Regions from separate parts of the Homo sapiens genome. Here all the other regions are linked to region 5. The links come from fine-mapping of genetic effects on gene expression. A gene starts in region 5. Each other region holds a variant in brackets. All regions are shown on one strand. Distances are from middle to middle.

What was found. PIP is the estimated chance that this variant, and not a neighbour inherited with it, causes the effect.
Region 1: its variant is the best candidate, but not a certain one, in a credible set for the expression of PTPN4 in whole blood (INTERVAL, PIP 0.66).
Region 2: its variant is the best candidate, but not a certain one, in a credible set for the expression of PTPN4 in subcutaneous fat (TwinsUK, PIP 0.72).
Region 3: its variant is the best candidate, but not a certain one, in a credible set for the expression of PTPN4 in whole blood (INTERVAL, PIP 0.89).
Region 4: its variant is the best candidate, but not a certain one, in a credible set for the expression of PTPN4 in CD4 T cells (CEDAR, PIP 0.79).

The regions. Positions count from the first base shown.
Region 1 is chr2:119,919,495-119,925,823 of GRCh38, forward strand. PTPN4 (protein tyrosine phosphatase non-receptor type 4) reads left to right here. Exons shown (of 27, transcript NM_002830.4): 12 at 575-747. Among named protein-coding and RNA genes, the nearest start is that of EPB41L5, 90 kb to the right of the region's middle. The variant T/C (reference allele first, on the strand shown) is at 3,148.
Region 2 is chr2:119,427,088-119,432,713 of GRCh38, forward strand. It overlaps TMEM37 (transmembrane protein 37), which reads left to right and starts at 4,767. Exons shown (of 2, transcript NM_183240.3): 1 at 4,767-4,837. The coding sequence starts at 4,817. RefSeq lists a silencer at 4,539-4,918 and an enhancer at 5,202-5,626. The variant G/T (reference allele first, on the strand shown) is at 3,092.
Region 3 is chr2:119,926,424-119,932,752 of GRCh38, forward strand. PTPN4 (protein tyrosine phosphatase non-receptor type 4) reads left to right here. Exons shown (of 27, transcript NM_002830.4): 13 at 175-243; 14 at 6,001-6,126. Among named protein-coding and RNA genes, the nearest start is that of EPB41L5, 83 kb to the right of the region's middle. The variant A/G (reference allele first, on the strand shown) is at 3,461.
Region 4 is chr2:119,735,066-119,741,394 of GRCh38, forward strand. The region is part of intron 1 of LOC101927764 (a long non-coding RNA gene); the gene reads right to left. Among named protein-coding and RNA genes, the nearest start is that of PTPN4, 22 kb to the right of the region's middle. The variant A/G (reference allele first, on the strand shown) is at 3,878.
Region 5 is chr2:119,757,190-119,763,518 of GRCh38, forward strand. It overlaps PTPN4 (protein tyrosine phosphatase non-receptor type 4), which reads left to right and starts at 2,733. Exons shown (of 27, transcript NM_002830.4): 1 at 2,733-3,195. It overlaps LOC101927764 (a long non-coding RNA gene), which reads right to left and starts at 2,525. Exons shown (of 4, transcript XR_007087215.1): 1 at 2,443-2,525. RefSeq lists silencers at 2,275-2,384, 2,935-3,234 and enhancers at 2,424-2,718, 2,435-2,694, 2,965-3,589.

The sequences.
Region 1 (6,329 bases), 160 kb after region 5:
CTATGATCTAAGGTTAAAGTTCCTAAGAGTTATAATATGAATGAACAAGGCCAGCACGGGGGCTCATGATATAATCCCAGCACTTTGTGAGGCCAAGGCAGGTAGATCACTTGAGGTCAGGAGTTCAAGACCAGCCTGGCCACCATGGTGAAACCCCGTCTCTACTAAACATAGAAAAAGTTAGCTGGGTGTGGTGGTGCATGCCTTTAATTCCTGCTGCTCGGGAGGCTGAGGCACAAGAATCACTTGAACCCATGAGGTGGAGGTTGCAGTGAGCCAAGATCGTGCCACTGCACTCCAGCATGGATGACAGAGTGAGACTGTGTCTCAAAAAAAAAAAAAAAAAAAAAGACTGAGTTAGGTCCAGATTTTTCAGGCTTTTGCATATACTTCATTGCCTTTTTATTGGATAAGCAAAAAAGATCCTAGATAAAAGATCCCATAGGTTCTATCTATATCATTAACAAGTTCATGTTTACAAGGCTAGAATAATTTATCTGTCAAAAGTAAATTAAATGGAGCATTAGATCCTGACATTTTCCTGGTATTCTCTGCATTTTGTCATTTATTACAGCATGAATCTAGAGAAACATTATTGGGATTTAATATGGTGAATTACAGAGCATGTAAAAATTTGTGGAAAGCATGTGTAGAACATCACACATTCTTCCGTTTGGACAGACCACTTCCACCTCAAAAGAATTTTTTTGCACATTATTTTACATTAGGTTCAAAATTCCGGTACTGGTAAGTATTGCTTCTGTGTTAAGGCTTTATTGTTGGATTTTGTTTCCTTTCTTTAAAATAAAGATGTAGTTTATGGAACCATACAACCTTTGTTACACAAACTTAACTGAGTCAAAAATCCCTATGGATTGCAGCCTCTATATCAGTATCATTAAAAAGTTCTATAGGTTCTTGTGATATGCTACAGGCTTGAGAAACCAGTTCTGTGTTCTGTATTTGCTGTCATTATTTTCTGGAGTAAATTAACTACATTTACTTATTTACAATAAAGACAGATGACATAATTTCTATTGTGTCTTTATTAGATATTTGCTTGAAAACTTTTCTTTGTTCTAAGACACCCAAGGTATCTTATGCCTAAAACTATATAATTATTGTTTTTTAATTTAGAATTTAGCATATTTTTGGGTTGTCAAACCCTTTATTGTAAAGTGTTTAAAACAGTCACGAGGCAAAATCAGATTTAGTCATTGAACAGTAACCCCAGGTTCCATTTCCTAAAATTGTTTTATTCTTGATAGCTTTTATTTTTTCCTGACGGCAACAAATCTTTGGGGAATAACTAAATCTGAAGAAGCTCTGATTAGTTTTACCTTTGGAATTCTTAAAAGACCCATGCAAGCTAGTTTTTAAGTGGAACCTGGTAAGAATCATGTAGAAAGTTATTCATTATCTTTTAGTAAAACAAATGTTATTCATTCTTGTTTGTTTATGCTTCACATAATAAGATTTTTCATCTTTGATAAATAAAACCCTTGGCCAGTCGCAATGGCTCACACCTGTAATCCCAGCTCTTTGGGAGGCCGAGGCAGGCGGATCACCAGAGGTCAGGAGTTCAAGACCAGCCTGGCCAACATGGTGAAACCCCGTCTCTACCAAAAACAAAAAACAAAAAATTAGCTGGCTGTGGTGGTGGGCGCTTGTAATCCCAGCTACTTGGGAGGCTGAGGCACGAGAATTGCTTGAACCCAGGAGGCAGGGGTTTCATGAGCCGACATCTCGCCATTGCACTCCAGCCTGGGTGACAGAGCAAGACTCCATCTCAAAAATAAAAATAAAATAAAATGAAAAACCCTTGACCATTATGTGTTAAGATTAATTCATGTTATATGTTCATGAGAAAAATGTTTAGATGTTCCCAGAAAAGATTTAAATTGTAAACCTAAACATGTATAATTGCCTAATTTGTAATCTCCGTAAAAATAACAGTATGAAGCTTAGTACAGGATATGTCACTTGAAATACATGACTCCCACCCCAGAAAAATTAGTAAAAGTGGCTCAAAAGTTCAGTAGTAACAATTAAACAGAATTAGAATATTTTTAACCAAACAAAAGGCACAGTAATTTCCTAAGCAGTTTGCTGTCACGTTTAACTCCTTTTTTTTTTTTTGCCTTCCTAAAAGCAATTTTGAGTAAAGTAAGATGACAGTACTTGCAAATTTAAAAGCAAATAGATGGAAGGAGAGAGTATCAGATCTATAATGAAAGTCAAGGAAAAAGCAAAGAGCCTTACCTACTGTTAATAAATCTCAGCAAGGACAGAAGAAATCTCCACGGCTTTATGTGAAATGAGAACAGTACAAACCCTAAAGATATTCTTTCAATGAATTTAATTTCTGATTGGTTACCAGGGTAGTTATACAAGGACTACTCTTACCCTCTGTTCAAATTCTTTTTTCTCCTCTTTGTCCTTGCAAATGTGACATAAACACACACCATTTAATTTAGGTACAAAGAAATGAGTAGGACCAATAACCAGTCTTCAACTATAATTCAAGCAAGTCTCAGACAAGATGAGAAAAGAAAGTCAAGGAAGTTACCCAAACCATACCAAAGCAAACATAAAATTTACATACGGTGACTTCAAATACAAAAGACAGTTGAAGAAACCTGTTTGGGAGGAAATCATCACTGAAACAGAAGGAAATTTGTACCATAAATATTAATAAAAGCAAGTTCAAGGACAATCTGATTTAAAAAAAAAAAAAAAAAAAAAAGATCGGCCGGGAAGGGAGCAACACCTGCCATTCAGAAGGCTGTTACTGCCCTTGGGGAAGATTGGCCTAGTATTGACAAATTTTACATGTTTTTCGACAAAACTGGGATTAAGGACTATTAAATGGGATATGTACATTTTAGAAAGTTGAACAATTATTTTAACAGCTTTATTGAAGTATAATTGACACATAAGAAATGATCATATTCAAACTTTAAAATCTGATGTTAGTATGATGAATTACTTTGATTGCATTTCAAGTGTTAAGCCAGCCCTACATTCCTAGGATAAACCCCACTTAGCCATGATATCCTTTATATATATTGTTTGATTCACTTTGCTAAATTTTGTTTAGGATTTTTGCATATGTGTTTATGAGGGATATATCTCTGTAGTTTTCTT[T/C]CGTACGATATCATTTTCAGATTTTATTGTGTCAGGGTCAAATTGGAATCATGAATGTGTTGAGAAAGTTCCATTTTCTGGAAGAGGCTGCATAGTAATAATATTATCTCATTTTTAAATGTTTCATAGAATTTGCAAATTAATTCATCTGGGGCAGAAGTCTTACTTATAGGAAGGTTTTGAACATTCAAATTCTTTAATAGATAAGGCAATTAAGGTTTTGTCTTTCTTCCTGAGCAAGATATGGTAGTTTCTGTCTGTCAGCAAATTTATCCATTTCATCTAGGTTGTTGAATTTATTGGCACAGAGTTTATAATATTCCCCATTTCTTTTTAATCTCTCTAGAATATGTAATAATGTTGCTTCTCTCATTCTTGGTAACTTGTGTCTTCTTTTTTCCTTGATTAGTCTGCTAGTGGTTTATCAGTTTGAATTAAATATTTTAAAATAATGTAGGCCAGGCATGGGGGCCTGTAATCTCAGTGTTGTGGGAGACCAAGGTGGGAGGATTGTTTGAGGCCAGGAGTTCAAGTCCAGCCTGGGCAACATAGGCAGACCCCTGTCTCTACCAAAAGTTTAAAAACTAGCTGGGCTTTTGGCACACACCTGTAGTCCTAACTACTCAGGAGGCTCAGGGAGGAGGATCACTTGAGGCCAGGAGTTAAAAGTTACAGGACTATGATCAGGCCACTGCACTTCAGCCTGGGTGACAGAGCAAGACCCTGTCTCTAAACAACAACAAACAGTATGTATTCCAAATAAAACTTGTATCTTCAGGCTTATGTTACTTGTGGGCCATCCTTTGTCAACCAAGTCCTAAAGACAAAAACATGACCAAAAAATATTAAACATGATCACATTGCCATTCAAGTCCAAAGTCAACATATAGACATTATCCAATATGCAAAAACTCAGAGAATATAACATCTCCAGGACCTTCCTGAAAACATTTATTAAGTAGTAAAATTCAGCAAACCAGGAGATAAATCAGAATAATCCTGATTAAAAAAATAACTTTTTATCAGGTATAAAAAAATAACTTTTTATCAGGTATAAAAAGTTATTTTTATATAAAAAGCCCTGAGAGTGAAGATTAAATCCTCTCTATATAGAAACAATTCTTGACAACCGTGAGAATTATAACTGCAGAATAAAATTTAAATGGTATAAACTTTGCCAAAGTAGAATAAGTAATATAACTTTAAAAAAATGAGGCTGGGCACGGTGGCTCACGCCTGTAATCCCAGCACTTTGGGAGGTCGAGGCGGGCGGATCACGAGGTCAGCAGATCGAGACCATCTTGGCTAATGCGGTGAAACCCTGTCTCTACTAAAAATACAAAAAATTAGCCGGGCGTAGTGGTGGGCACCTGTAGTCCCAGTTACTCGGGAGGCTGAGGCAGAAGAATGGCGTGAACCCAGGAGGCAGAGCTTGCAGTGAGCCGAGATGGAGCCACTGCACTCCAGCCTGGGCGACAGAGTGAGACTCCGTCTCAAAAAAAAAAAAAAAAAAAAGCAAGGGACTAGTGGGAGGAAGTATTTGAATCCTTAAAGTTTGAAACAATTTTAGACATTAACACAGCAGTTCTTAAGGTTTTCTTCATCTTTTTTCCTTTTTTTTAATATGAATGGCAGTCTTTTTTATCTTTTATTTCACTGGAAACCAGTTTAATTTTTTTCGTTAAAAGTGGCATATATACCATAGTTTCATTGTAATAAAATTATTGTGCCTGTATGTCTAGCCTTTTTAATGTTTATATACATGAATTTCAGAATGATTTTTACCTGCTCATAATGGTGATGATTTCTTTATGGATAGGACTGTGGGTAAAAACAATTTTTTTGTTCTTTTTATATTTTTCTATGTTGCTTGAATAACTTATAATAAGCCTATATATAAAGAGAGAGAGAAAGAGAGAGAACTTTCTCATTGCTCAAAAGATAAGTATCTTACTGTGAAAGTTTAGTGTTCTGAAACTGGAACAGTTTTTCATTTTGTTGTAATGATAATACTAAATCCCTAATGTCTGTATTATGGACAATATGAAATATAAGCCTTTCTTTCATTAATTTTAAAAAAAATTGTTTCTTTATTATGAAATTTAACTTGTTACTCCAGCCTTTTGAGTAATAGTATCCCATTTGAATCTTCTTCACTGGAAAATTAAGGTATCAGTCAGAGTTCAGTCAGGGAAGCAGAAAGCCCTTTTGGTATTTCAAACAAAAGCAATTTAATTGAGGAAATTAGTTACATGGTTGTTGGAAATGCTGGGAAAACAAAAGGGTGGAAACATGGTTATGGAGAAAAAAACAAGAAGAAGGGGTAATGCCTAAAATTCAGATGCATTCAGGACTCCCTGGGCTGGAGTCCACAAACTACACCTGCTACTACACTGTTAGAGCTCTGTTTCCCTGACTGAACTCTGACTGATACATTAATTTTCCAGTGAAGAAAAATCAGTCTGCATCTTGCAGAGAAGTACTGCTTTAATCAAGGATGGGACCATCTACAGGATGCTCTTTCTCACTATACCCTATCCCCATGACTATTAAAGCAGCTGCCAGCAGCTGCCAGTTTCCTGCTCTGCCTTTCTCCACTTTCTGATCTTCCACCAGTACCTTCTAAAAGCAGAACCTAAGGCAAAATAATCTAGAAAATGGAATTTGTTTATCATAGCCCCTGCAAAACATAGGGCACAGGACAGGACTGGGCCTATGACAGCTCGCACATTAAATTGTATATACATAATTGTGTATATTTATAGTTTTAAAAAGTTAAGCTTTGCGTTTGTAGTCCTTAAGAACTTTAAAACATATCCAAAGCACTTTTTAATCATCAAAGTGGTTAGACATCTTGTAAATGAAGTAGGAATGGGAGAACTTTAAAACTTATCCAAAGCACTTTTTAATCATCCAAGTGGTTAGACATCTTGTAAATGAAGTAGGAATGAAGTAGGAAATGAAGTAAAAATGTTAACTGGACACAGTCCTGTCCCTAATGAGTATGCACTAAATAAACTTTTTTTCCCTTCATAATAAGCAGTGGTGGAGAATACTGGAACTGTTGTCATACTTAAAATGTTGAAATACTCTTTTGACTGACAGATGGTACTGGGACTATCAGATCTATTACTTTCTCCACCAGTCTCTTCATGTACATATCCTTATCTCTGTTCCAAAGT
Region 2 (5,626 bases), 330 kb before region 5:
GAAGACCTGGTTGGTAAAGGCGGGGCAGCAGGAGGAGAGGAGAGGGAAGAGGCCATGGGCCACAGACAAGGCAAGACCTGGAGAGGTCAGAAGTACAAGGCACGGGCGGCAGGGAGGGTGGGTCATCCTGGCACCATGCAGCTTTAAAGCTACCCAGTGAGCTTCAAGGGGCTGCTCCTTGCCAACTCCCTGCTATTACCTCTGGGTGTTTGGAGTGTGTCTGCCCCACCTCGTCCCTCCCACCTTCCAACTCCTCAAAAGAGAAACTTCCAGCACTGGGAACTACCCCCAAGACTAAATCTCCGCACAGGGGAGTCGCCTCTCAGATCTAAGTTTCCCTGGGAGCAGGGACCGCGCAAACTTAGAGCCCCCTGGAAACTGGATGGTAAAGATCATGAGTTATTTAGACTTATGCATATGCCAGCCGGGATGGTGCACCTGACACCTTATGCACATTCATTGCTTCATGGGATCCTCTCAACACCAGGAGGGAGATGCTTCCCATTTGACAGAAAAGTGAGGAGCACAGAGGGGAAGTATTTGCTCAGAATGCATTAGAAGCCTGGTTCTTCTGTAAGCAAACCTTATTGACCAACCTGTATTTAGGGACTGGGCATGGAGTGGTGAAAGAGGGAAAAAGTCCCAGCTCTCATGGAGCCCATGATATTTTAGAGAGGGAAAGGGACAATCCAGGAAATAGACAAATAGCCACTTTCAGCTAGTGATCAAGAATTTACAAAGGTAAAAGAGTGGCAAGTGGGGGGTGGAGTGTTACTCTGGCTGGGAAAGTCAGGAGATGCCCCTGAAAAGGCCCTGCAGACACCCAGGGGAAGGTCTTGGCAGGAAGGTCGGGGGCTGGGGGGCCAGGAACCAAAGCTTCCTGAGCCTTGGAAAAGAGGGATGGGAAGATGCTTGAAGGGACAGAGGAAGTGAGAGTGAAGGCTGTTCCACAGGCATCCAGGCTAGAGAGGAGGGGATCTGGGGTGGGCTGAAGCCGGGCAGGCACTGGAGGGGCAGAGAGGAGAGGATGGAGTATATGGAGGGCGTGAGGGCAAAGAGAGCAGGAGGATGTGGAGCCTGAACTACCGAGGCCTGGGAGAGAGCAGAAATGGAGAGGTAGGTTTGGACTCTAAAACTCAAGCACTTTACCATTGACAGGGACTTTGTCTTTTTCTTCTTTGTCCCTCATTGGTCAGGACAGTTGTGACTACATAGTAGGTATTCAATCACTTCATTCATTTAGTCAATGAATATTTATTGAGAACCTACTACATGCCTGGCTCTGTCGTAGGCACCAGCGATACACTGGTGAACAGGACAATGCCCTTGGCCTCTTGGAGCTTACATTAAAAGGGGGAGAGAGGACAAGTAAATATGTGTATGTGGGCAGAAGAGAAAAGAGAATGGAGGGGCTGTTTTAGATGTGGGGGTCGTCGTAGGCCTCTCTGATAAGGTGACATCTGAGCCCAGACTTTAAAGAAGTGAGCTGGTGAGTCTTAAATGGGAGTATCTGGAGGAAGAACATTTCAGGCAGAAGAAGCAGCAAGTACAAAGGCCCCGAGATGAAAGAGTGTTTGCTGACTGAACAACAGATCTAGTGCTTGTTGACTGAATGATCAGGAATTGTGTCCCTACCAATACACTTGAAACTCTCTAAGGAACATGCCTGGATCTTCCTCATCAGGCAAGAGTGGTCAGAGGGGTGGGAAGGAGCCACTTCCTGCCTTTCTTTAAGCCATTCCTCTTTCCCCAGCCCTGGCCAGGCCTAGAAGCAGGGGTCAGGGAGGGTCAAGTGCCGAGTCTGTCACAATCTGGACAAAGGGCAGAGAAAGTCAAAGAATAGGCAGGCTCCATGCTGTCCCACAGCCCAGTACTCATGCCCATGCTGTTTCTGCTTTTAACACCTGGGGGTCCACCCGGTAATCCAACCCCCACCTCTGCCCCTGCCATGTTTCCCCTCACACTAAAACTCCCTGCTTCTCTGGACATTCTTCTCCTGGTGCGGTATTTGTCTCTGCAGGGTTTAAGGGAAAGCTTCTTCACCCTCTGAAGTTTCAATGAAAAATAAACTCACAAAAGGCACATTAAATGGAGAAAAGGTATATACATTAATTCAAGGTGTACACCCCGGGAGAATCACGGAGTATGCCCACCCCTCAGCAGTGCTCAGAAGCTTCTATACTATCCTGGCAGAACAGGTGATGGGAGAGGAGAGAAGACGAATTCTGTAGAGGGGCTAGCCGAATGGATCAGGGAATAGAGATTAACTTGCCGGGTGTGGTCACATTCTCAGTCCTACAGGGAGGAGAAGAAACACAATTGTTCCTTTTGGTGGGTCTGGATGTTAGGCAGATAAAGGAACTTCAGTTTCATCCTGTGTTTTGGGAGAGACGGTGAGGGGAGGGAAGGTCAGAGAGACCTTGAGGCTTTTTCAGTTGTGTATGTCAAAGCGCCATGCTTTGGGACTTCTGACCCCAATACCTCTGGCTATCTCACCAGGATTTGAGAGGGCTGTGGATGCTGCCACTCCCCGCACCACCCCAACCCCCTAAGCCAGAGAGGTACCAGGAGACTCCAGGTCTTAGAGTCTCAGCTCAGATTCCACCCAAATTCTGGCCATATTCCCAGTCCTCATGTGAGCATAAGATGATCAGAACTGGATAGTCACTTCCTCCTTATTATTCTTAAGTCATTTCTGCTTCTCCAACTATCTTGCTGACAAGACATGTTGCTCTAAATTCTACTGATTCAATACTTTTCTATTCTTACCAACAAAGCGTAACAGGCTGTGAGAAACATGCCTGACCACACACGAAACTGGAGAAGGCAGTGGGTGCAGATGACCCGACCTGACTGTTCTTCTGATTTTAATTCCAGGCACTTCCCTCTTGGCCAGGTGAGATGCTATGATCCAGAATCTCACCTGGGAGAGCCCACAGGGCATTCTTAGGGCTCAGTGAAAGGATACCCCCGCAACAGGACAGGTCTTCCTTTCCCATGTGGGCTCTTTATCCAGAACCCAGAGCTGCGGAGAGTCTGGCTTCTGGGACCCTTGACTGGGGAGAAAGCAGGTGGGGGCCACGGAGGGAAG[G/T]CCCCAGAGCAGAGAGGCACCAGGCTGGCTGAGCCTGGGCAGCTGCCCTTTGCCTTAGCTCAGTGGTTCTCAAAGCCTGGCCCCCAGGCCAGCAGCACCAACATCACTTGAGGCCACTCAGCCAGAAACTCTGCAGTGGGGCCTCGCAATCTGTTTTAACAAACCTTCCAGGTGACTCTGGTGCAGAATGGTGGCAAGAACTCAAACCTGGACTAGGCCTGCTGGGTAAGTGGAGTCCCAGCTCTCCAGTGGACTCAATGTGGGTGGCCTGGGCCAAGCCTTCCTGTGCCTGGGCCATTTCTCCGTTTGTCAAGCTCCAGGACTGGGGTAAAGGATTTGACAAGGTCTGTTGGGCAGGGATGGAATCAGATGAATATCTAAGTGGAAGATATACAGACAATTGTAACTACCCCTCTTTCTCACATGGCTCTAAAGGGGAAAACAGATGAGTGCAGTTGCTTTGTCTTTGGGTAAAGTCACCAGGAGCTGCCTGCCTGAGTGAACCAGACAATTTAATGTGTGCCATTTAGTGAGGGGCCTTGTTTTACCACCACATTTGAGGATGGGGGGAGGGAAGCCTTTCTGTTGGAATTTGTGGCCCTTGGACACTCCTCCCACCTCCACCCTTTTTGGCGGTAAAAGCTTTTAGGTGCTGCCTCTTTAAGAACTCAGATCCGGCCGGATGCGGTGGCTCATGCCTGTAATCCTAGCACTTTGGAAGGCCGAGATCGGTGGATCACCTGAGGTCAGGAGTTCGAGACCAGCCTGACCAAAATGGTGAAACCCCCGTCTCTGCTAAAAAATACAAAAATTAGCAGGGCTTGATGGGGCGCGCTTGTAATCCCAGCTACTCGGGAGGCTGAGGCAGGAGAATCGCTTGAACGGGTTTGAACCCAGGAGGCGAAGGTTGCAGTGAGCCGTGATCGCGTCATTGCACTCCAGCCTGGGCCACAAGCGCTAGACAACGTCCAGAAAAAAAAAAAGAGAGACCTCAGTTCCCATCGAGGTGGAGAAAAAATAACCACATTTGTTTGGCATATTTGCATTTTTAATAGTCCCTGAGGAGTTCAGGAGGAAACAGGGTTTTACATCCCCTTTTAGGGACGCAAGTAGGATTGCCCCAAAAAGTTCCACTCCGTTCACACTCAGCGAGGGCCCGGCAAGAGCCCCACCTTTCACATTCATTATTTCCCTTACTAACCGAGGCTCCGAGACGCTAAACAAGCAGCCCAAGGTCACACCGCAGAGTGAGGGCAGCAGAGCCTCTGCGCCTGCCTCCTCCCTTCGGACCCTGCCGCGTTCCCAGAGGCTGGACTCAGCAAGCTGGAACAGGAATCGAACCCTCAGGCCCTCGTCGCCGTCCCAGCCCTCGAGGAATCTGCGCCCCAGGCGAAGCTGTCCTCGGAGGTTCGGGAGCGTCGGAGTGACTTCCCGATCCTTTCCCCTGGGACCCGAGGGATCCCTCCCCCCAAGTGCCGGGTCCTCCCCGCGGCTCCCCAGGGGCTCCTCCGGCCGCCCTCGCTGACTCAGCGTAATCCGAGCCGCGGAGGGCGGCGGGGTTGGCGGAGCCCGCCCGGGGTTAATCGCCGAGCTTTGAACGCCCCCTCCCGCCCCGCCCGCCTCCAGCAGCCGCCCCGCCCCTGCGGAGAAGTCCCGGGCTGGCGCCGGCGGCCACAGCGGAGCAGCTGGAGCGATCGAGGCTGCAGCGCGGCCGCCGGGCGCAGCATGACTGCCGTCGGCGTGCAGGTAGCCGGCGCCTGGCGGGGCGCTGACCCGGGGTGCTGCCCCGCCGTGGGAGGTTGGGGGTGGGAGGACGGAGGGAGGGGCGTACCCACCGCGAGCGCCGGCGTCGGGCTGGGGGTGCGAGCGCCCCCCGTGCCCGCCCCCTGTTGCAAACCTGGGTCCGGAGGAGGCTGGGCGGGGAGCAACCTCGGGGGGCCTGCCTGCCTCACATAGCTGCTCCCGAGGCGCGGACTCCGGCTGCTTCTGCTCGCGGCCTTGCAAGCACCCGAGGCTCCCAAACTTCATTTGGAAAGATTTTTCTTCTCTTTGGTGTCACCAGTGACTTACTGGTCAGTTTACCATAAGGGTCCCCCTTTGTGAGAAATGAGGCGCGTCTGGGGTGGAGGGACAGAATCGACTTGCAAAGTGAGGCTTATGTAACAGAGGATGCGTCTCTTGGGAAGTTAGACCTTTCTGGGGGTGGAGGTTAGGAAGACCGTCTCCCTCCCCAAAGCTGCGTTTGGGGTGCTGGGCTGGGGGTGGACTTGCTGAGTCGCGCGGACACCTCAGGGAAAGGCTCTGGCGAGGGAAGAAGCCCGTGTCTCCGAAGATTTGGCTTCTCCTTAGCGTAGTGCACGATGTTTATGTTGGCTAAGAACCTACACATTCCTACCCGCTCCCTCGGGCCTGCTGCTCCCCAAAGGGAAGTCAGTGGGTGGCGGTACCGCTGCCCAGCGGGCGAACTTCCTTTCCGCGCAACTCGCCCGCTGCAGAGTCTATCCGCTGGACTGTCTCCAGGATTAGAGAGGCCCG
Region 3 (6,329 bases), 170 kb after region 5:
TTCATTCATCCAGGTAGAATTGGAATGTTGTCCAGTCTTTTTATTCTCTGCTTCCTTTTCTCTGCTAGAAATGTCTTGTCTCTTAGGAAGTTACACTATAATCATGTTATGTGTTGTCATTTTATCTTATAGTTCTCTTAAGACTTTATTGTTGTGCATATTTATATATTTCAGTGGGAGAACTGAAGTCCAATCAGTTCAGTATGGCAAAGAAAAGGCAAATAAAGACAGGGTATTTGCAAGGTAAGCCAAATCTGTTTCATTGTTTGAATTTTTTTAAAAAGATGGATTGAGTTTACTAAAAAGTTTTTCTAAATATTTTTTCTAAAGTTTTTCTAAATATTTCAAATTTTTGATTACAGAATTATCACAATTCTTTAACAGTAAATAATGTTGAGGGAATGATAAACTAGCTTGTCTAGTTTATTGATTCATTTTTTATATTAATAGTGTGCCAGGCATTGCAGTTCTGAATAGGCTGATCAAATATTATGTTATTAATATAATATTCTGTTCGAGGTTGCTCCACTTTTTTAAACATTTTTGAGAAATATAGTGACTTATTTCATGTTATCAAGCCATTTCCATATTTATTTAAATTATAATGTTAAGAGATAAGTTGTTTTATTTTTTGTTTTTGTTTACCATTTATTGTCTTTATTTCTTTAGGGTCTGTCATAGCCAATTTGCTTTTTTTTTTTTTTTTTTGAGACGGAGTCTTACCCTGTCATCCAGGCTGGAGTGCAGTGGTGCAATTTCAGCTCACTGCAACCTCTGCCTTCTGGGTTCAAGTGATTCTCCTGCCTCAGCCTCCCTAGTAGCTGGGATTACGCATGCCACCACACCTGGCTAATATTTTTGTATTTTTAGTAGAGATGGGGTTTACCATGTCAGCCAGGCTAGTCTCGAACTCGTGACCTCAGGTGATCCCCCCCACCTTGGCCTCCCAAAGTGCTGGCATTACAGGCATGAGCCACCACTCCCGACCTAGCCAATTTGCTTTTTAACAAGTGAAATGACATGATAAGATCTATGTTTTAGAAAATAGTATTATGAGCAATGATAGAGAATGGATTAGCGAGGAAAGCCTCGGTACCCAGAAACTATAAGGTAATTGCAGTAATCCAAGTGAAAATAATAAAGGCCTGAACAAAAACATTGGTAATGGAATGGAAAATAGGGAACAAATTTAAGGAACGTTTTGTAGGCAGAACTAGCAGAAGCTGATGACCAACTGGATACAGGTGTGTTAGAGACAAGAGTTTGTTTTCAGTGAAAATTACTTTGAGAGGCTAAGTCTTTTAATTAGTTATGTGTTTGGCATCTACTGCTATTAGAGGCTTGAGTTTTAATAAAGAGAACTAGAAAGTTTGCTTTTGATTTCACTTTGTTTAAATTTTGTTCTTAAGTCTTTATCTAAGAGACCTTCCTTCTTTGTGTTTCTGGAGTAAAGGGAGTTTTGTGTTCTTGGTTTTTTTCTTCCTCCTTCCAAAAGTGGAAATTGCTTTTTTCCCCTAGTAATATAAGTGATAGCTCATTATGTTTAAAAACTCCAACAGTATCAAAGAGCATAAAGAAAATTTATCATCCCAAGACAACTTTTTAAAAAAATTTTGATACTCATTATTCAGGATTTTTCTATGCATATACTCATAGAGACATTTTTATATATGTGTGTATATTTGTTTCCAAATTGTTTTAAACTATTTGTTGTTTGTTTTTATCATCTAGCATATCGTGCACATTTTCTTTGCTGTTCAAAAATCTAGTCATTTATAATGGCAATAAATCTTTTAACAGTTAAATTCTTTGATTGTAAACTGTAAACTTAACTTTTAGGATTCCTCCCTTTACTGAGCCACGTCCCTGCCTCCAGAGTAGGAGTTGTTGCTAAGACTTTGTAAGGATGTCACAGTAATATGTGACATACAGCTTACATTTAGTAGTCTACTATATGAGGAAATAATAGTTTATTACATTATGAATTAACATTAATAGAAGAGCCATAAATGGTAAGTTAATCTTTATTTTAAAAATCAAATGCATGAGATAATATACTTTATTTTCATTCTGTTGTGACTGATAGGAAAATTTGCACTGCAATATGAGGGGGTTGGACCAAACGGTGTCATGAGTTGTCTTCTAATCAAAAAATCCTATAATTTAAACCTGTGATAATGGAAAATCTTCACACCTAAATTACTTTGAATTCACTTATGGAAAATGAAATGAGTCCATGTATTTTTTAAAAAACGAATAACATTTCTTAAAATATTTTTCTGATTCTTAGTGTTGTAACAGCGTAGCAATATACTTAAAACTTTCCTTTCTTAACAAGTGTCTTCTTTCTGCTTGACTTTTATAAACAGTGTAGAACGTGCGATGTGGTCACTAGTTGTATGCAGCATATCCTCATACGAGTACCAGATCGTAGGCATATTTATGTATTAAGTTAATATCACATACAAATGGTTTCTTTATAAGTGTTAATGTTTTCATGTTTTGATCCTATCAGATTTTAGAAATAAGCAGAGTTATACCTGCATCTTAGTTGTTCATTTTGTGTATTCATTATTAAAATGTATAGTTGTTTAATAGGTTATTTTATAAAACAAATAGCCATGATTCCGTGAATAGTAGAGGTAAAATTTCAATATTATAAGCCTCAGATAACTCTCTTCCTTTTGTTTTTCTGGAATTGTGTGGTTCCTCTGAAATAATAAGGTATCAGCTACAATGAGGTTGTAATAGTACTGGGCTGTTTAATGATCTCTCTTTCTCTGAAAGATAAGCTTTTCTGGGATTGTTTTTCTAATATGTTAGGATCTAATTGTAATGAACAGATATATGTCTACCAAAATTCTCTAATGGTTTTAGTAATTATTAAGTTATTTTATTAAAGTACCAGATAACCTAGAGTTCTTTTTTTTTCTTTGGGTTTTAGTTGGCAATATGAGTAGATAGAAAAGGCTCCTCCTTAAACTTCTCATATAATAATTTTTTAGCAATCATTAAATGTTTTTTCTTTTTTCTGATTATCACCTCTTTGTGTTCGCCTCAGCAGCACATATACTGATTATCACCTCTTCAAATTGCTTTCACATTTTGCAGTTGTCATATAATATATCTAAGAAAAGAGAAAAACAATGTTCTCATACAACAGAAAAATAAGGTGCCCTAGACAGAAAAGAAGCTTACCACATCGCAAACACACTGATGCTGTGTGGTATTTTTTTCTCTGAAATTTCCACACTCAACAGGAAACATAGACAGCAAGCTTGAGTGGGTGGGTCCCTGAGGTTAAAACTGTTAATAAAATAAAATACATGAAGTTTGGTTTTAAGTTCAAAGTGTCCAGCCATGTTTAGTCCATTAACAGCAATAAAGTGTTCTGACGCTTCAGACTAGGTGAGTGTGCTGGAATTTTTTTTCTTCAAATGACTTTTTCCAGCTTTTAGAA[A/G]ATGAAAGTAGTTGATCTATTGATTACAGTTAGTGAACTTTCATACAGCTTACATTTCGTAGTTTAATATTTGAGGAAATAATAGTTTATTACATTATGAATTAGCATTAATAGAGCCATAAATGTTAATCTTTATTTTAAAAATCAAAGTTTTATGCATGAGGTAATATACTTTATTTTCATTCTGTTGTGACTGATAAGAAAATTTGCACTGCAATATGAGGGAGTTGAACTAAACGGTGTCATGAGTTGTCTTCAAATCAAAAAATCCTATAATTTAAACCTGTGATAATGGGAAATGTTCACACCTAAATTACTTTGAATTCACTTACGGAAAATGAAATCTGAGTCAATGTATCTTTTTTAAAACTAATAACATTCCATGTCTTATAAAATGCCTACAAGATTTTTGATTAAGGAAATGTCATTAGGCCAAACTAAAAAAGTTTTAGCTATGAATTGCTGAAATGACAGGACACTTCTGTGGTGTAGATTCATAAGTAACTTAAATTTTTCGTGGTTTAGTAAAATTAATAGGCTAAAATATTGCCCTGAAAATTTGGATATTCATAAATCATAAAATTCAGGAGGTAGGGAGAGACCTATGGGTCATATTATGCTAATAAATTTATACATTTAGATACAGAAACATAAGAGGTCTGTCTAATAGGAAGCCACATCTAGAATTCAGAGTCCTTATCATTATTTTAATGCTTCCTACTGTACACATAATAACAATTTGTTCAGTTCTCTTTGGTCAGTGTTATTGTGCGTGTTAGTCCGACATTTCTTTTTACACGTTTAACATATTGGAAAGGAAATTCTAGCAGGCAGTGAAACTTCAAACTTCATGAGATCATTATGTATCAGAATTCTAATGTTATTAAGTTTTAATGTAATCAGATGAGTTAATATTGCATTTGCTTTGTGCCTTCCTTGGTAATTGTTTTTTTTTTTTTAGCCATACAGAAGTGTATACATAGTACATGATGAGAGAAAAATATCCCAATGAGCTAAAAAAGCAAGTCCAATACTACCTGCAATTCTTTATCAATATAAGAAAATCTGAAAATAAATCCAAAGTCACACAACAAAGGCCTATGATTCTTATTAACTATAACCAAAAATAGTCTTCATTTTTAAATTTTACTCAAATAGGTATTTCTACCTAAATTTTTATGATCTGATTTTTGTAGGAAGACAACAGGATGTTTCATTTTTTGTAAATTGTGCTGGAATGGAAAATACATATAGTTTTTATATGCTTCAGTTAATTACTGAAATATAAAACTGTTTACAAGATGATTTATTATATACTTTATATATGTAGCTTAAATTATTCGCCTCCACATTAACTCTGCACTTCATAAAGCCAGGCATTTAAAGAAATAACATATATTTTCAGCTAATTTTGTCTATTATCTGAATTTGCATATAAAAAATACTTTATTTGTTAACATTCCTAAAATTCTAAGGGTTTATGATCTCTGCATAGATCAGTATCTTTTGATCTGAATGAATCAATATGAAGATCTTTCTTTCTTTCTTTCTTTTTTTTTTTTTTTTTTTTTTTTTTGAGACAGGGTTTTACTCTTGTCACCCAGGTTGGAATGCAGTGGTGCTATCACAGCTCACTGCAGTCTCAAATTCCTGGACTCAAGTTGATCCTCTGACTTCAGCCTCCCAAGTAGCTTGGACTACAGGCACTTGCCATCATACCCAGCTAATTTATTTTTTGTAGAGACAGAGTCTCCTTATGTTGCCCAAGCTGGTCTTGAATTCCTAAGTTCCAGTGATCCTCCCACCTGGGCCTCCCAAAGTGCTGGGATTGCAGCACTGAGCCACCTCGCGCATCCAAGATCTTTTTTTAAAACATCACTTAGTTTTCATCTTTATCATTAGGATAGCTGATAATATATAGATTGGTAACAAAACATATCCTTTTACTCCCCACCAATAGACAGAATTATTAACCCTCCAAAATGTTTTTGGAAAAAAGGGAAAAATCCACTAACCTACTATATGTAAACAATTTTTTAAGTAGATAAAATGTAATATGCATAATTATTTTTGTTCTGTCTTCATTGAGGCAGAGGATTGGGATTTAGTTATAGAAGCATTCAGGAGATAATGTGCGAGGAGTTATTTAATACATCCCAAGATAAGCTAGTGTTCCAGATACTCTGGAATAGAAGTAGGTAGTATCTGTCTTGTCAGTAACATCTGAGAAAACATTTGGTAGCAAACCCTTCCCTTTTTACCTTTGTCCTTCCTTTTCTTGTTTCTTCTGTTTTTCTCATCCTTCTTATTGTCTATCTTACTCTTCCTAGCCTGTCTTACCTTTATTCTTCATATAAAGCCAATGTACATTCTTAGGAAGTTATTTGGTAAATAGCCTCTAAATGCATTAATTTTTTACAAGTAAACTCTTTATGTTGCTCATCTAGAACATAATCTCTGAAAACAAATTGTAGGATTTGATTCATGGTTTGGGGTATAAAAATAAAACTTTTAACATATTATTTAATTTATTTCTGCAGATCCCCAAGTAAGCCCTTGGCACGGAAATTAATGGATTGGGAAGTAGTAAGCAGAAATTCAATATCTGATGACAGGTTAGAAACACAAAGTCTTCCATCACGATCTCCACCGGGAACTCCTAATCAGTAAGTGTGAATTTTGTGACCAACATCAGGTGTGAATTTTGCTAATTTCTAATTATTGGCTGTATATTTTTATGCCTGAAGACAAAGATACGCAAAAATTGAATTCTTTTGGTGAAACATGATTTTTGTTGCTCCAGAGCATTATTTTCTCTTTGCCTGCTGCTCTTTGCAGAAGTAACATGGTATAGACTTGCGGAATGAGA
Region 4 (6,329 bases), 22 kb before region 5:
AGGGGCTGAATCTCAGGGCTCTCAAAGCTGCAAAAGACAAGAGGTGTCAAAATGGTCTGTCCCCTCTCGGAATGCACCCCCACCTCCTGACAGAGGGACACCTGGAGGCTGGGTCATGCTCGGGAATGTCCACGCTGCAGGTTAGTTCAGGAGAACATCCCTACGCAGAGGGCAGGGCCCAGGCTGAGGGGTTTATTCAGGTTGCCACTGGATCCACCCAGCTGCCTGGAGACAGGGATTGTCCTCATTTGACCAAGTCACACAGCTAGTAGTAGTAGGTGGTGGAACCCTGTGGTGGACATTGGTCATTCTGGCTGCTTAGCATCTAGGTATACTTATTCTATGCTTTCTTGCAGAAGTTGTGCAGTTTTCAATCTTATATTTAGGTCTATGGTCCAACCTGAGTTAATCTTTGTATATGATGTCAGGTTAGCATCAAGGTTCTTTTTCTTTGTATTGGATGTCCACTTGTGGATATACAGTACTTCTTATTTGGGAGGAACATCAGGGTAAGTGTTCCATTTGCCCGCTACAGAAGATTCCATTGCCCAGTACAGAAACCAAGCTGAAGGGGAAGCTTTCCGCTCTCTAGTTGCTTAAAGGTTTCACCCTTTAGGCAGACAAGCCAAAGCACATGGTCATTTAGGGATTAGATGAGGTGGCTGTGAACAGCAGTGACAAGTGCCCCTCCCAAGTCGGTGGCTCTCAAGGTGGCCTCTGGACTGTGCCTGTCCTCCTCTACGTCTTGCCCCCGCCAAGGCCTCCCAGCGGCCCCATGATGCCATGCGCTTCCCACTGCTCCTCACGTAAATTCCTTCTCTGCTAAAGTTAACCAGAAACAGTTTGTGTTTGCAACCAAATTTGCAGCTGCTACAAGGCAGAATTCAAACTCTGACAATGTCTTGCTAAAAAACCCATGTGCTTTCTAAAATACCGTTCTTGGTGCACTGTTAAAGCTTATGTACATATAAGACATAATTATTATTACAATGCATTAAATTGGATGATATCCTAGTGAGATAGGTGGCAGGGTGGTGGTAATCACGGAAAAAAGAAAGCTCAAACCATCAAGGCTAGATGCTGTCAAGCTACAGGCTCACAGAAAGCTTTGGGAGGAAAAGAGCTACACGAGTCAGGAAAACAGCAGATTAAATAGGAAGCACCCAGCTGGGTAATGCGATTCCACCGCCTCTTTTCCAAAGAACTAAATTCAGCTGTGGCTTAAAAAAAAAATTCCTGTATGGTTTGTGGGTGGTCATAGTCATGAAACCTAGAATTTTAAAGCCAGGAAGGACCTTAAAAATCATCTGACCTTCAGACCCGCCTGGGTTTTATAAAAGAAAATCATCTATTGTACTGGCCTCATTTCCTAGATAAGGAGACTGGTTCCCAGTTAGGTTGCAAGACTTAGGAAACATCACATGCAAGGCAGTGACAGAGCCAGACTACAGGGAGGCTTTCTCTTTACCTTCACCCTTCGGAAAAGGGTGGTGAACACAGTCCAAAAAGTCAGAGGGGAACCGCTCTTACACAGTGGGAAACTAGACATTAGTTTAAGTAAGAAATCAAATTGCATGTTATGCCAGTCTTGTCATCTCTGTGAAGTCACTGATTCATTCTCAAAACCATCACCCTGAGATATACCCACTCTTTCCTGTGTTTCTACTGGGGAACTATCCAGGTAAACCTCTCCTCCCAAGGTCCTCTAGAGTGTTCCTGAGGCCCATACTTAAATAAAGCATTTGAGGGCCAGGATGTACTTGAAGTTCTTCTTCAAAGTATGTGTTTTTCTGCAGTTTACACAGGCTGTCGTACATGTATCACCTGGGAGGAGTGATAGGCTGTGGCGTTATCTCAGTGCTATGGTTTTAGCTTATAGACAGTCATTCCCATTAGCCCCTAGGGAAAAGGGATGCTGAAGAAATTCAACAGAAGACCTAAAGTTTCTATCGAGGCATTTTCACACAATCAGCCTACACTCTGAGTACAATTTAGGGAAAAGCTTTCCTTCTCCAAAATGCATTTTCTTAAGAGGCTCTGGAAGTTAGGGGAGATGTTAGAGACAGCTGACCACCTTCCCCTGTGAAGGGGCCTCCTCTCCAGCCGATCCTCCCCAGCAGCCTGAGCTTCCTAGTCAATCAGAGAGCTGTGGCCCCCCACAGCAGCAAAGTGATGTAAGCCTCAGGGAGAATGAGATCGCTCAGTTTGTAGTGATGTGGAAAGTTCTCCAAGGTTCATTGGGGATGCAAAAGTGTGATAATTTGATCACATAGGTGTAAAAAATAAACATATATGATTTAGCAAAATACATAGACAACTTCCAAAAGGAGACACATGAAACCATTAACAGTGTTTGCTCCTGAAGAGCAGGACTGGAATATCAAGGAGGGAGGGGATATTTTTGCTTTTTGCTTAAAACATTTCTGTAATGTTTACCTTAATGGCAATAACAAGAACGATGAATACAGGTTACCTTTATAATTAAAAGTAGAAACTATTTTTTTTAATCCGGTTTCCAGTTTCCAGAGCATTAGCCCTCAGACCTGGGTGGGTGGGGCTCAAACATCCATATCTCAGTAAGTTCTTCTGATGATTCTAGTGTGCGGCCAGAGTTGAAAACCACCGGGTCAAGGCATTGAGGGTCCCTGGTAATGTAGGAAGTGGGAAAGGAGGTAATGTATGAAGTGTTATGGTGTTATCTTAATATGAATCTCTCTGTCAGGTTAGCTTCTGGGGAGAAAGAGGTGCTGGCAAAATTCAGCAGAAGAGCTAAGCAGTGTGTTTCCTGGGATAGAAGTGGGTTCCTCAGGTAGGCATCTCAGGGGGCAGCCAGAGGGCACTTGGGTTGATGCCCAGGAAGCGGAGAAGAGAAAGCAAGAGAAGGCAGTTCAGGCCCACGGAGCAGGCCTCCGAGGCCCCCTATGTCCCCAGAACCATTGGCTCCATAGCCTCTGTTCTCCCCACCACAAAGCAAGGACTTGTAATGTAGGAACCCACAGGCAGTTTGAATATTTGTTGTATTTGGAAGCCTCCAAATTCTGTTTAAAAATAATTCTGGGTTTCTTTCAAAAGGCAGGTTGGGGAGAAACATCTGGAATAAAATAAACCCGCAGACCACTTGCACAGACCAAAAGGGAAAGAAAAAACATCCCACTCCAAATTACGTTATTCCCAAAAGAGCCAGGAAAGACATGAATGGGGGAAGGAAGAGTAAAAAACAAACCTCTAAATGATGTTAAGAGAGGGTGGGGAAAACCAGGGTGGAGGTCGGTCTGACAGTACTTTGCTCTCACATTTTGGAAAGAAAGAAGTTCCATTTTAGTAATTTTGAGTCTTTCTCAAAAAAGTAATTTTTCTGTACAGTTCTAAATGATACACTTGAGTCAATTCTGAGGAGCTTCACACACAACTGGTATCTACATTCCCCTCATCCCCATAGACCTGGCTAAAGAGTCAGTGTCCTGGCAGGGCACGGTGGCTCACACCTGTAATCCCAGCACTTTGGGAGGCCCAGGCGGGCGGATCACGAGGTCAGGAGATCGAGACCATCCTGGCTAACACTGTGAAACCCCGTCTCTATTAAGAAATACAAAAAATTAGCCGGGCATGGTGGTGGGCGCCTGTAGTCCCAGCTACTCGGGAGGCTAAGGCAGCAGAATGGTGTGAACCCGGGAGGCGGAGCTTGCAGTGAGCTGAGATGGCGCCACTGCACTCCAGCCTGGGCAACAGAGCAAGACTCTGTCTCAAAAAAGAGTCTGTGTCCTACCCCACTAATAATGGTTGTCCTCTCAGGGAAAGCATGTTTCTGACAGACATTGTTCTCAGCAGCAGGGCTGGTGTCTGCATGTTCCATGTACTGAGTTGAAAAGGAGCTGGC[A/G]TCCGCAAGATCTCTTTCAGAAGGGCTGATGAAGGCCTTCCAGATCATCAGCTGCAATTCCCATTGCAAATCAGTTCATCTTAGGAAATGTCTGCCGTGGGGACAAATCTTTACTGAGAGCCAACATCTCAATGGCTCATGTTGACTCCTTTAGGATAGCTAGGGGAGCCGAGCATTGCTCCCCTAGCATTGCTAAGCATCTAGTAGGGACCCTGTAGAAGTGATGTCTCTTATTCTTGCTCAGTCCTGTGAAGTCATTTTTACTGTCCACATTTCACAGATGAGGAAGTTGAGTCCTCTATGATAGCTAGGGGAGCCGGGCATTGCTCCCCTAGCATTGCTGAGCATCTAGTAGGGACCCTGTAGAAGTGATGTCTCTTATTCTTGCTCAGTCCTGTGAAGTCATTTTTAATGTCCACATTTCACAGATGAGGAAGTTGAGTCCCAGGGAGTCTGGGCTCCAGAATCAGGCAAATCTAGCTCCTCTACTCAGCAGTAGTGACTTCAGGCAAGTTACTTAACTCTCTGTGTCTCGGGTCCCTCCTCTTTAAAGTGGAGAGAACAATGAAACCTCTCTCATAGTAACAGAGAAGATTGAGAGAATGCCTCTCAAAGCATTTAGCAGACAAATATGCAACCAATAAATATTAGGTGCTATTGTTATTGATGTTGTAATGATTTAAAGGGTTAAATAGCTCACTTGAATTAAGTAATTCAGCACTGTAATAAAGTGCTGAAGCTGGGATTTTTGTTGTTGTCTTAGCCCCAGCACAAACTCTCATTACTCAGCACTGTGTCTCTAAGCTGAGGATGAAAGACAGAGACACAGACGTCAGACAGAGGCACCTGTCCTCTTCCCTCAAGGGACAGCAAAGTAGCTAAGGGTATAGATTAGGTAGATGTTGCCTTCTGGACACAAGGTTTATTTTGTGGCTTATTAGAGAGTGGGACTGACTGTCTGTCACCTGCTGTAACACAGGTCTAGGATGAGGCCCAGGAGAATTCTGCTGACCATGCAGCAGGCAGGGCCAGAAGCTGGGAACAGGCTGGCAAGGGCTGGAGAAACTGGGCACCACAGGCACTGGTGCAGGGAGGGGACACAAGGTCTGGGCACCGTGTCTGTGGGCTCAAAAGGCTGACAGTTTGGAACCATCTGGGGGATGTGGTCAGCCAAGCAGGCTGTTGGGGGAAGTGCCCAAGTCAGCAGGCTGCAGCTGAACTCAAAGGAACCTGACATGGATCTGGCAGCCAACGGGTGACCTGCAGGTGTGGAAAGTGGGATCCTGGGTTCTAGGGTCCCTTGGGGAGGTCACTGGCTATCAGTAATTTACTGGTAGCCCTGGCCATTCCTAGTCTTTCCTAGTGAGGGTGTGTGTAAAGAACCCACAGGAAGGCCGGGCGCGGTGGCTCATGCCTATAATCCCAGCACTTTGGGAGGCCGATGTGGGTGGATCACCTGAGGTCAGGAGTTCAAGACTAGCCTGGCCAATATGGTGAAACCCTGTCTCTACTAAAAATACAAAAAAATTAGCCAGGCATGGTGGTGCATGCCTGTAATCCCAGCTACTTGGGAGGCTGAGGCAGGAGAATTACTTGAACCCAGGAGGTGGAGGTTGCAGTGAGCTGAGATTGCGCCACTGCACTCTAGCCTGGCAACAGAGTGAGACTCCATCTCAAAGGAAAAAAAAGAACTCACAGGAAAATAGGAGTCAAGCACTATCATTGCTATGCTAGGCACTTTGCACGTCCCATCTCAGTTCCCACAACAGGCCCATGTGGTAGCTATTCTCATTCCCCAGGTTATCAAGGAGGAAACTGAGGCTCATACAAGTTAAGAAATTTGCTCAAGGTCAGCGTTAGAGTGTCTAATAAGCTAAATAAATGTCTGCTTAGGATACCTGCAAAGCAAGAGCACCTAAAAATTTGCTTCTGAAATAATTTTAAAATTGATTTTTCTAAGACTGCATCAAGGGAATCATTGCTGGAAAAAGAACTTTGTTGAATTTCCTTACAATTATTTTTATGCCCTAAACAGAATGGAAAGGGATAGGTGGAAAAAAGCTTTCTCCTCACTTTTCTCTCTTTTTATAGTGAGGGAATGAGGTGATTGGGAGGAAGAGGGAGGATTCTTTTCAAGAAGTCCTCAGAAAATGTCCTCCAACATCCCATTGGCTAGGACTGGGTCGCACACACCCCTAGACCAGTCACTGGCAAAGAGAAACCACATTGTGTTGATTGTCTTACAACAAGCACAGTGTGTACTGTGGTGCTGGGCAAATGGCCACATCAACAACACTGGGTTCTGTTAGCAAGAAGAAAGGGCCAACATAATGGTGGTTGAGTAGGCTATGGATGGAGCTATCGCAACCCTTCAGGTGCTCCCAAATCCCAGAGAAGCTAGGAAAGCACAGACGTTTCATTTACCAAATGGTTACCTTGGGTTTGGGATTTA
Region 5 (6,329 bases):
TGCAGACAAGGAAAAAAAAACAGTCAATAGCAGTGTCTGCCAATATCCAGTAATGTTTGAGGCCACTTTTGAATGAAAAAAAAAATTCTTGCTAACTTCCAACTGTTAAGTCATTTTAATTATGTCTCTTAATTATACATAAACTTTAGGTAATAATTTCTTATTCTTATAGCTCACGTCTATAAAACTAAAACAATTTTAGAAATTAAATTCACAAATTTAAAAAATTCAATTAATATGATGTATGTAATGTGTGGTGAATTATATTTGTTGTTTTGCTGAAATTAAATTGTCCTTTGATATGAGAATATGGAACTCACTGCTATGGTATGTACTTTTTTGTTTGGCATGCTTATAATTGACTTAATTATCTCAACATTCTTCTCTATTTGAATTTCTGTTAAACTTCTGTGCAGTGTGCCGTAAAGGACGTATGACCTTCACTTAGCCAGAATGCTGTCCTTTCCACAAGAAGTATTCTATTCTTTTCCCATTAGCCCCAGAAAATTAAATTTGTGGTTGGTGCCAAATACAAAATCAAGTGCAGGGTTTCGTTACAAGGTGGTCATCAAATGATCCAATATAGTGACTAGAATATATTAACTTTTAAAAGAACATAATTTAAGTAAGAGCAAAATATTTACATATTTTATAGATAATTTGCATATATTTTTTCTTAGACTCCAGTTTAAGGAACAGTAGTCTACACCCCTGCTACTCCAGGGTGGTCCAAAAGCCAGGGAGCTTGTTAGAAAGAGTCTCTAGGCCAGGTGCAGTGGCTCACTCCTGTGATCCTAGCACTTTGGGAGGCCAAGGCAGGAAGATTGCTTGAGGTCAGGAGGGTTCAAGATCAGCCTGGGCAACACAGTGAGAGCCTGTCTCTATTGAAAAAAAAAAAAAAAGAAAGAAATGCAGAATTTCAGGGCCCACTCTAGACCTAATGGATTAGACCATGCCATTTAATAAGAACTCCAGGTGATCAGCATGTATATTAAAGTGTGAGATATACTAATTTATTATTTCCCAATTCAATTTTCAGTGGGCCCATGTGAGCCTGGGGCACAGTCTAAAGCTCTCTCTCTCTTTTTTTTAAGGACAATAATTGCTTCTTCTCTTTCCAGGGTTGCAGGCAGGTAGATTTAAGGTGAACTCAGATTTTTCAAGGAATAATGGTGAGTATTGGTAACTTCAAAGGGTCCATCCTGGTGACTTGCAGGGGAAGTTCCACTCAGGAACTTTTGTGTCTTGCTTAACACCAGACACAAGACTACATGTAAGCCATGTGGCTCACATGTGTAATCCCAGCTACTCCGAAGGTTAAGGTAAGATGATCTCTTGAGCCCAGGAGTTGGAGACCAGCCTGACAACATAGCGAGACCTTGCCTCTAAACAAAAATTACATATTGTATGATTCTATTTATATGAAACATTCAATTTCTGGTGGAAGTCTCATATGATCTTTGGTTGGAGGATGACTGGATGTTGACAGATGACAATGAGGTGAAGAGCATTTTAGCAGAGGGAATGGCATGATCAAAGACAAAATGGAGAGTCAGAGGCAGGAATGCATATTTAGGGAGGAATGAATGAGCACTGGCTACAACAGAGATCTGGGAAGAAAAGCAAGTGAAGGAAGTAAAGCTGGAAACATGGATTGACAAGTTGCCTTTTTCAAATGGAAAAACTAACAGGTGTGAGGGAGAAGAGAGTCAATAGAAATTTCTGTCTTTTCCAGATTTGTTCACATTCCCCTGATTTGTAGTCATTTTGTCGGCTTGGGAAAGTGGTTTTTGAAAGATCGTCTTTATAAAGGTAGGCTCTGATAGGATGCTCAAGCTAAGAGCAAGGAAGGACAAAGAAGGCGCCTGGCGACAGAAAAGGGCACTAACAAAAATTGGGCAAAAAGGAAGTGTGGCGGTCCCCAAATCCCTTCTTCCTCCATTTCAGCTGAGATCATTCGCCAGTAGGCAACTGTGGTATTACCAATAAGTTTGTATCACCAATAAAATATTATAATGCACCTGGCTAAAAACCCTGGCGTGATAACACCAAATTCATGTTATTAGAAGGAATTAAATTTTAAAAAGCACACCGTTCCAGGCACACAGAAGGAGCCCCCGAACGTTTGTTTTATAAACGCAGGTTGGTTGCTGAGGCTTTGTTTTGGAGCCTACGTTTAGGAGAGGAAATGATTCAAAACTGCCCCCCAAAACCTATATCCTCCAGGAGCACTGAGGTTGGGGCGACCTGCTGCCAACTGGTCTGGTTTTCCCTTTTAACACACGCTTCTTGCCCACTATCCGGTCCCTGCGGTCAGTGGGTGCAGCAGGGGTCGCAGTCCAAACAACCAATCGCGACGCGGCTGCGGGGCGGGGGCCACAGCGCTCCGCCTCCCCCCTCCAATCCGCCCTCCCAATCCTCCTAGGCCGCTCTCTCTCGCACCTGCGTGTCCCTCTGCGCTCCGACTGGTGCGACTTCTCCCTGCGCTAGCGAGGCAGGGTTTTGGCCTCGCCTCTCGCGAGATCGCCTCCTGTTGCTGCCGCCGCCGCTCCTGGCCACTGACTGGCGGCGCCTGCGCAGCCGCCATGTTCGGTTGCTATGCTGCGGCCTAGGAGAGGGGGTGTGCTTGAGGGAGGAGGAAGAGATAGAGGAGGAGGAGGGGGAGGAAGAGGAGGTGGAGAAGGAGGGGGGTGACTGAGCTCCTCTTGCACTCTCACACACAAACGCTGCCCAGGATTACCCGCCAGCTCACGCCGCGCAGTGCGCTTTTCCGCTCCTCGCGCCCCACCACCAACATTGTTCTCTCAGGACTCCTGGGTCCCAGGGGCCGGAATTGGGCCTGAGCGGGAGAGGAAAGAGACTTGGCTTTGGCCGCGGGGTCGGAGGATTGGGGCCAGGCCCCCTCCCCCACGCACTTTTGGGGGTGTGGATTATCTCATCCCTGCAGGGAGGTAGGAGAGGTCGCCGGCTGCCCGCCTCCCTGCCACCTCCCCAGCGGCGCCGGCCCGCGGCTGCCCAGCAGCATGAGGTGGTGCTGGCGGCTCCGGGTCGTGGCGCGACCGCTGCGGCGGCGGCTGCTCGGGGGGCGCTGAGGTAGCCCCCCGGAGCGGCACGGAGGACGCGCTTCTCCTCTGCGCGCCGGGGCCTCGAGGCTTTTTTTCTCCAGCCGAGAGGACGCGGCTGTGATATACGAAGGTAAGAGGTTCTCCGGTCCCCGCCGGCCTCTCGGCCCTGCACGTTGAACGGGAGGCTCTTACCTGCATGTGTGGCTCCTGGGAGGTGAGCCAGGTGGGGCAAGCCGGAGGTACGAGGATGATTTGAAAGGAAGGAAAAAAGGACAAAAACAAACAAACAAACAAACAAAAAAACGCTTTCTTTCCTTTCTTCCTGGGACCTCTGCTTTTGCGGGGGTTATAGTTGGAATCTCTGTTATGGGTCAGCGAAGGGCCAAGGGATGGAATAGGTGCGGAGATGGAATGTTCCCAGTACCTAAACTCTAGGTAAAGCTTTGGAATCTTGAGTTTTCCATTGCTGGTAGAATTCCTTTTTTTTTTTTTTTTTTTTTTGGCTCATATGAGCGCTTCTTGCACGCTGCATGAGCCAACTATTCCTACCATTGAAGTTTTAAGCCTGTTATGATTCTACCAGTATATACCTGTATTTGGGAATCTGTAGTTGAGCCAAAAAAAAAAAAAAAAAAAAAGTTGAGATGTGGGTAAACAGTGATGCATTTCGCAGGGTTTCCATAAAATGGAACAGCTTACAGTTGCACAGGTGATGTGTGGATGTTTCTGCAAAACTTAGGGTGGAAGATTTTATGTCTGGGCTTGCATCATGTAGTGACATCAGTATGTACAAGGACGATTTGTAGGATTTTTCAAAACGCCTGTTCTAGGATAACTTGTTATGCATCTGCAATATGCCAGCTGCTTTTCGAATAAGAGGTTTCAGTAATACTAAGTTTCTGTGTCCAGATCTTGGGCCCAGTTGAAACAGTACAGCTGATTGGTCACATTTAAAACATATTTATGGAGAAAGATAAAAGGCCAATGTGTCCGACTTGCAAAAGACAATTAGAGTAGAAAGAAGACTGGAACAGTAAAAGCCAGGGCATTTTTAAATCTTGGTTTTCTGAACTTTAACGTGCCAGAGGAAAAAAATTTTTTTTCAATTTTAAGGGGGAAGGAGATGGCCTTAAAATAAAGGATTGTTCAGAGCCTAAACTGTGCTTAATGGAATAGAGCTAGGTATATCATCTAAATCTTGAATTTGACTAATATAAATTCAGCTTTCTTTTAAAGAAAAAACTCGTAAGCAGAAGTTTGTGTATTCTACAGAACCTCTTCACTAGCTCGTAAGTGTGATCATTTTGTGGACATCACTGTTTTTTTGTTAGAATAAATTTATGCTCCAATTACCACAAAAGCAATTTTTATGTCTCTTCGCATTTTTTATGGTACACATATCTTTGTTACATTTTGCATTGAAACACGCACGGTCCCATAGTATCATAATCTTCAGTGATTTATAAGAGAAACAGTCTATTTTGTACATGGGAATGTTTGTCATGTTGCCAGTCTGTTTTAAAAATTTGGCAAGAGGTTTTTAAAATCCAAGGAGGCACCACTATTTTGTAGTTTTTAAAAATATTAATTGAGTAGGTCCATGTTTATTAAGTTAGAAAATCACGAGTTCCTCAAAAGTAGTAATAGACGAGGATGTGATTTTTCTTACTGCCCATTTTCTAACATCTTAGCTTCAGAGCTGTAGGTATTGAATTGAGTCAAACTTGTGTTTTTTTCTTATGTTCTAATTAAATATCTTTTAAAATGTCCCTAGTAACATTGTTACTTTAAATTTATAACACCCAATTTCTAATTTAGGCTAGGCATAAAACCAGCATTGATTGAACGTACTTGCTAAAAATACTTTCTGGGTCGGATGTACTTAGAATGCAGCCTCAGGAAATTTCATTTGAACTATTCTGTGACCAGTGTACACTTCATTATTGTTGAAGGACTTTTAAAAAAAGTATAGATCTCTCATACTCGATTTAATCAGTTTGAGCATAGATGCCTAACTTTAAAAAAAAAGTATAATAAAGTGGGATAGTAATACAATTTACGTGAGATGGTAATAAAAACTTTTCAGCTTTTTTTTTTAACTTGTATGACTTCGTTAGGTTGTTATTAAACTGTGATTTGTATTTTTAAAATAGTTTTGTCTGTTAAACATAATTGAGGTGTACAGTACAGTATCCATTGTTATCTGTTTAGTATTTATTTATGACTTACAAACTCTAAAAGCGGGATCAGTGATCATGGTTTTTAGTAAGTTGTCTTTAAGGAGCAAAGTAAGAGACTAGCAGAAAATTGCAAGGAGGTTTGTTATTGAGAGTACTTCTGCCCCCCGCTTGAGAGTTAATATGGCCACTTTTAAACAAGAAAAGTTTTCCAGAAACGTGGAAATCTTGTTTGGTGTATGTTTAGGGGCAAATGTTTTAAAGTTTTGCCTAAATTCTTAGTTAGAATGCAAAATTGATCAACTCCCTAGGAATGGTTATTGTGGCTAAATATGAATTGTTGCTCCTATGTAAAATTTAGTTATTGGTAGAAGTTTACTAACTGAGTTGAATTTTGTTGTTTTCCTGGGTTATTGCATGTTATGAAGTTTTTTATGTACTATAATCCAGATTTGTTAAATTTGCCAGTTTACTAGAATAAGCTGTGAAGCCTTGAAGTTTGGCTTAGCATTCTGAAAATCCTTTTTATTGTTTGCCAGGAAAGCACTGTAGGAAGGAGGTGTTATCTCTTCATTTAATATTTAATGAGTAGTATAGATGATGAGATAGGATATAATGTAGAAATACCGTAGAATCTTCTTTATTGATATGAAAGTACCATTGTCTAGGAACAGCATAATTTCTTATCTTTTGCATGAATGGGGAAAAAGAGGAGGGGAAATTTATTAGACTCTTTCATTTCATTAGAGATATCTTCCCTCACATTCATTCTTCATTTCATTATTCTTAAGTAGAAACTTTGGAAGAGAGATGCAAGTATTTGAATTAATTAGTAAGAACAAAATGAAAATTACATCGTATAGACTATCATGAGGAAAATATCAATTTGGGTTGGTTATTGTGTTTGTATTTTTTAACAAGGAGGTTATATAGAGTAGTAGAAAGAAAAAAGGACCCAGAGGGGAAGAGTGTTAATATTTATTGTCTGTTAAGTGTCAGATCCTGTATAAGGGGCTTTTCATGTTGTCCCACTCACCAAGTATGCTTTATGAGGTAGGTATTATTAATCCCCTGTCCTCTCCCTGCC